Linked DNA regions of Homo sapiens. The protein of the gene in region 1 interacts with the protein of each later gene in a pairwise test. Each region holds a gene or a part of one and is shown in the gene's direction. Other genes may lie near its edges.

What was found.
Region 2: the proteins of ETV1 (region 1) and NFE2L2 interact in binary tests that used the Homo sapiens proteins (3 or more experiments, as listed by UniProt).

The regions. Positions count from the first base shown.
Region 1 is NC_000007.14:13,890,568-13,893,371, reverse strand, and holds the end of ETV1 (ETS translocation variant 1), read left to right. Parts: 3' UTR 1-2,143; downstream 2,144-2,804. UniProt on the Homo sapiens protein: Transcriptional activator that binds to DNA sequences containing the consensus pentanucleotide 5'-CGGA[AT]-3'. Required for olfactory dopaminergic neuron differentiation; may directly activate expression of tyrosine hydroxylase (TH).
Region 2 is NC_000002.12:177,236,967-177,240,801, reverse strand, and holds part of NFE2L2 (nuclear factor erythroid 2-related factor 2), read left to right. Parts: intron 1-3,835.

The DNA.
Region 1 (2,804 bases):
TATCTAAAATTTTTTAAGTTCTGTTTTGATTCCACTTTTTGGTTGAGTTTTTATGTTTTTGTTTTCAGGTAGATTAATAAATCTGGCAGCTGATTTCTGCAAGATTCTTGTGTTTTGAATTTCTCATTGAATTGGCTACTCAAACATAGAAATCATTTGTTAATGATGTAATGTCTTCTCTCAGCTTTTATCTTCACTGCTGTTTGCTGTCTCTTGATGATGACATGTTAATACCCAATAGATTAATTGCAACAAACACTTATACTCAAATAACTAAGTAAAAATAATTTTTCTTGTTATGTCCATGAAAAGTGCTTCAGAATAAAAATCCACAAGACTGACAGTGCAGAACATTTTTCTCAAATCATGGGCGGATCTTGGAGGTCTAGTTTCCCGTAGATGCTGTAACCAATTACCACAACTTCAGTAATTTACACAAATTTATCTTATAGTTCTGGAGGCAGAAGTTCAAAAGAAGCCTTAAGAGACTAAAACCAAGATGTCCTTAGGTCTGGTTCCTTCTGGAGGCTCCAGGGGAGATTCTTCCAGCTTTCACTTCTAGAGTCTGCTGACATTCCTTGGCTCCTGGCTACATCACTTCAATCTCTGCTTCCATGGTCACATACTCTTCTACTATAGTCAAATTTCCTTCCTGCCTCTTATAAGGATGCTTGTGATTACATTTAGGGGATGCTCAGATAATCCAGGACAATCTCTCCATCTCAAGATCCTTAACTTAATGACGTGTGCCAAGTCCCTTTGGCTAGATAATTATTCATAGGTCCCAGGGATTAGGACATGGATGTAAGGGGTGAGGGCAGGGCTGTTATTCAGAACACCGCACGGAGGAGGAAGACTGTGTAGCAAAGACTCTAATTGATTTACTCAGGAACAGTGGAGTTCTGCTGAGGGATCTAGGATTTGAAAGTACTAGAGTTTGCTTTTATTTACCACTGAGATATTTTCCCCTTATTCTGCATAAATAATTTTGAAAACTTTCTATATTAAATTTCAACTATTCCACTAAAATGTCTGGTAATCACATCAAGCCTTTAGATTATTCAAATCCTTCCCCAGCCCCCAGGAAAACACTAAGTCATGAAACAGAAAAACAGAAGGTATGATAATAATAGTAATAACAGTTAAATCAGTGGTCTAATCCAGATTTTATTTTTTAATACATTTCTTTTGGTGTTAATATGGGTTACTATGTGATCTTATCATTTGCTAGTGATTATTACTTATTAGGTAAGAACAATGTGTAAAATATGTCTATTACTCAAAAGAACAATTGCAAAATGAGTCAACTTATCTTTATATAACCAGGAAAGAAATATATTGCCAGAAGCTACAGAATTTTGCCAGATGATAGGGATTTCTAAAATGAGCCACTTTGTCTATCATGCAGCCTTTTCAGAGCTTGTAATGAGAAAACATTACAGAGGAGAAGGTCATTTGGATGTTTGTTACTTGGAATCCTAGAAAACAAAAACTAAAATTTAAAAATAAGAAGTGAGTAAGCTATTTTCCATTTGCGATTTGGTATGGAGAAGAGAGGAAATAGAATTATTAAAAAAATACAAATTGGGTAAAAGTGATGGTGGAAAAAATATAAAGAAGGCAAATGTACATATTAAGCAATTCTACTAAGAATTGGAAAAATCAAGTTTCAAAAAGATGGTAATAGTTGGGCATGATACTAGAAAATTTCACCCAGTTTATTCAGAGCTCAACTAGTACTTTTAGGACTTCTTTTTTTATATACATGAGACTCACTTTGACATACTTAAAAAAAAAACAGTTTATGGAAAGTACAGTTTAAGAGGAGAATTTGATTAGACTAAGTGGATATCTTTATAGAAATATTAATGATTTCAGAATTTTCAGTTACAAGTGTATATACCGTGGCTATTGTTTATGGATTCATATGTAAGGTAGGGTCTTTTTTGCATATAGACTCCAGTATTAGTTACTTTCATTCTAAAATTATATTTATGCTTCTATGGGGAAGAAAATTTTTAATTCACTTGGTTGTATTAAAATTATACTTACGGTTTGAGAAAACATGCTATGAAAATCATGATTATAGCAAATTAAATATGCTCAAAATTTAAATCTAAAATAAAAGCCCAGAAACTGAAAATATTGGACTGTCGTGATCACTCTGAAAGGTAGCACATCTAAAACTGATAAACGTCATCTAAATTTTTGACTGTCTTCTAATCATCGTGTCATTTTTAATAGTTTATGACCACAGCACTCAAGTAATGTGTTTGCACTACTTTGCCATATATTATTCTTTTAGATAATTTAGATACCAGGACACCTGATAAATCCTTTTTGAGTTCTACGTTCTAATCTCTGTAAATATCTTGTTTCACATAAATCCTTCAATAAATGTATCATGGAGAAATTTGGGGAAGGGAACTAACTAAATTATTTCAGTGACTCCCACATGCCAGACAGCACAGATATGTGAATTATGTTACTGCCTCCAAATTGCTTGGTTTTGTCTGGTGAGAAACTGAAGCTAATGGCAAAACCAGTATGTCTTGGTGTCAAGATGTCGTGGTCACAGGCAAATCATGAACCCTACCTTTTGGGGAACTTGGACCTAGCTACTTTTCTGATTTAATTTCTAATGACAAAAATATCTATAATAATAACAGATTCTGCTGAAACACGGTGTTATTTAATTTTTTTTCTTTTTTGAATATTCCTTGTAGAAAAATCTAAAAAGAAATCAAGCACTATTTAAACAACAGCAACAATAAACTGAGTTGTTTTTTAAGTGTTTTTAAGCA
Region 2 (3,835 bases), on another chromosome or scaffold:
CTAAAATTGACTTGCAAAAGACATATTTAATATGGATTCTGTGTTCAAGTCCTTTCTTCTTTGTTTATCCTGGTACAAAGATGTTTGTTTTAAAGTGGTATGAGTTAATTGTCCAACTTCAGATTTCCCTAAAATGTGTAACAGATTACCCAGTTGGCAAATGATGATATATATTTTTTAAACATGAATATTTCTGTTAGGCCAGATGGTGATTTAACATGAATTGTCCAACATTTGTGTTTCTTATCAAATTGTCTTCTTTTGTCTAAGCCAAGCTAGCAACATAATTTGGAACACACTCAGGAATCACTAAAGGACAAGAGCAAAAAAAATTCAGACACCAAGTGGCAGACGGCATTTGCTCCATATGCCATGCAAAGGCTCCTGGCCAGTGCTCGCATGGCCCTTGGGAAGCTTTCTCACCCGTTGTAAGAAAGTATCTGTGCAGTGCTGTGCAACCCATCTACCTGCTTTCCTCTCTCTACCCAAACCCTACTTATCTAACACTTTGTACTGTGGCCTTCCTCCATGGGGGACTTGCACTTCCTCAAAGCCCTGGATTTCTGTGCAGAAGAGCAGTTTTAGTTCTTCCTTAGGCACTTCCCTTTCCTCCTGTCCAGTGTCATGTTCTTGTTTGTTATGGGCTCCACCCAGACGATTATTTCCTCTTAGATGATGTGTGAGCCTTGCAGAGAGCTGGGTCATTTGTGGAATAAATCATGTGCCCAGTCACACGGCTCCTTACAGGAAATGGTTGGTGCATATTAGCTTAGCACAAAATACAGTAGTGAGCTTGTGGTCCCCAACAGTGAGTCTTCAGTTAACTTCTGCTGTTTTTTTTTTTTTTTTTTTAACATAAAGCTTTGAATGTTTCATACAGTATCAAATCTCTGCAGGATTTTGCCTGCTGAAACAGATGTGAAAATCTGAGTAGCACAGAGTATGACATTAAGGCCATAACAATAAACCTATTGTTGCTGCATTCTAAATTTGATCAAGATGTCTGTTTTTGGGAATCCAAAATAGTTGCTTCAAATTTAGCTTTTTTCTTTTATGAAGCAGTTTTGTTTTGTTTTGTTTTGAGACCTCTCATAGCAAGAAAAAACATTACATAAACTTTTTTTTGAGACAAGGTCTCACTTTGTTACCCAGGCTGGAGTGCAGTGGCACGATCTTGGCTCACTGCAGCCTCGACCTCCTGGGCTCAAGCAGTCCTCCCACCTTAGTCCCCCACGTAGCTGGGACTACAGGCACATGCCACCACGCCCGGCTAATTTTTGTATTTTTAGTAGAGACAGGGTTTCACCATGTTGCCCAGGCTGGTCTCGAACTCCTGAGCACAAGCGATCTGCCCGCCTCGGCCTCCCAAAGTGCTAAGATTATAGGCGTGAGCCACCATGCCTGGCCACATAAATATAAACTTAAAAATACACAGGAAAACCTTTCAGAACACTTTGAAACCTATTTTGGTCCTATTACGATTGCACTGAATGTCCCCCAGCCTAATGAAGAGCAATTAGATGTCATTTGGTGGCATTCTTGGTGGAGACAGTAAGCTAGGGCCGCAGGAGCTGCTTAGTCTCCCAGGGTCCAGCATTGTTTCAGGTAACGTGAACAGGATGCTCAAGAGCTAGTCTAAATAATGCTTCATGTCTTATTTTTCCTGTTTGTTGATAAGGATTCATAAAGATGTCTTTTTCTGGTCATGTCAAGGGAAATTCAAATAAAAAACATTGAATTGGTTTGGAGCTGTCCATTGAAGGGTACTCACAGCAGGAATTGAGTGGCAATTGAATGTGTGTGTGTGTATGTTTGTAAACATTTATATTAGAGTGTATGCAAATGTATATGGGCGTGCCCACTGCCATCACCATTACCCCCACCAACAGTAACAAAACCACCATCAAGAGCAATATCCACTAAAACTTCTAATTTGCTTATTAATTTGCTTTATTATTTGTAAATAATTCAGAATCTCTGAGATCAAAATCCTTTTTTATTACAACATGTTAATAGTAGTCTAATTCAGACCTGCCCTGAGGAAGAACCAAGCAATGAAGCTGTCCATGATTTTAGAAGTTAATTGGCTCATTCTTTCTGACCATCTAGGTAGTCCCAACATTATTTTAGGCTCCCCCTAGTTAGGTCCACAACCTCATTATTATCCATTGGCCTGGACTTTGGTCTCGCTTATACAGCAAGTAGTAGAGCCTATCACTGTCAACATGTAAACATTTGCATATTTTACATTTATAGAGAGATACTTTTCACGTGCCTCATTTGATCCACTAACATCTGTATGCTTGGGTAGGATGGAATAATTAAACAATGTATAGCTAAAGCCATCCAAACCCCTCAAATATTATCATCTGATGGGAAGGAAAAGGGGGGGAAAGGAAATTAAATAGTTATTTCAATTCTTGGCATGATTGACACTGACAATTATAAATTCCATTCAATATTTTCTTCCAGCTCATGAGGGTTGGTTGTAAGGATACTTTGCAAGTCAGATTTATGAGCAGAAGATGTTTGCAACCTAAATTGCTTCAGTTGCATGAAAAAGTCACAACCTTTTACTGATTTTTATCCTGGGATCTCCTTAACAAGAAAAAACCTCAGGCCCAGGAAGTCTAGGGTGAGGCAGGGATGTGTCAAAGTACACTTTTCCCCACGTACAGGGACAAGTATTTGAGTTTCTTTGATTGACTTTGCAAAGAGCTTTGCACACTTTGCACATCACTTCTTGAGATGGGTGGGAACATGGACTGCCTATTTTACAGAGTTCAATTAAGATCGCAGGATCATGCATTCCTTTCATTTTTGGTGCTAGTACCTAGAAGATGGGAACATATTGAACACTTAATACCTTGCTTGGGCAGATAGCTCCAGTTTGCAGAAAGTCTAGACAGGATACCCTGCTATGTATCTAGATTTACTGAGAAGAAGCGGCCCAAGCTAATCAGAATTTTAAAGTAGGTTTCTCAGCTGGGCGTGGTGGCTCACACCTGTAATCCCAGCACTTTGGGAGGCCGAGGCAGGCAGATCACTTGAGGTCAGGGGTTCGAGACCAGCCTGGCCAACATGGCGAAATCCTGTCTCTACTAAAAATAGAAAAATTAGCCGGGCATGGTGGCACGCACCTGTAATCCCAGCTATTCAGGAGGCTGAGGTGAGAGAACTGCTTGAACCCTGGAGGCGGAAGTTGCAGTGAGCTGAGATTGTGCCACTGCACTCCAGCCTGGGCGACAGAGCGAGACTCCGTCTCAAAAAAAAATAAAATAAAGTAGGTTTCTCTATACCTTTGAATTTTCTGTCTCCCATGATAACCTTTGGGTAAACATGTCCATCAGAATGGAAACAAATCATTTTTTAAAATAGAAATTATTCTCATACCTATTTTAGTGGGAATCCCCCTGAGAAGATAGCCATGTATAGTCGACTGAATGCTCTGTGGTTGCTATTTTGTTGCTCTTGGCCAGGAAACTGATCTAGGTGACCTACAGACTTAATCTGACCTGCAGACTGGCCGCTTCATACTACCAAGATTCCAAAGCCAAGTGTATATACAGTCGGCCCATGCAGCCTCTGGTTCCATGATGCAACCAATGGCAGATTGGTTCAAAAATATTTGGAAAAAGGCCAAGCACAGTGGAGTGGTTCATGCCTGTAATCCTAGCACTTTGGGAAGCTGAGGCAGGAAAATCAATGGAGCCCGGGAATTCAAGACCAGCCTGGGCAAAATGGCAAGACGCCATCTCTACAAAAAGTAATTAGCTGGGCTTGGTGGCATGTGCCTGTAGTCCCAGCTACTTGGGAGGCTGAGGTGGGAGGATCA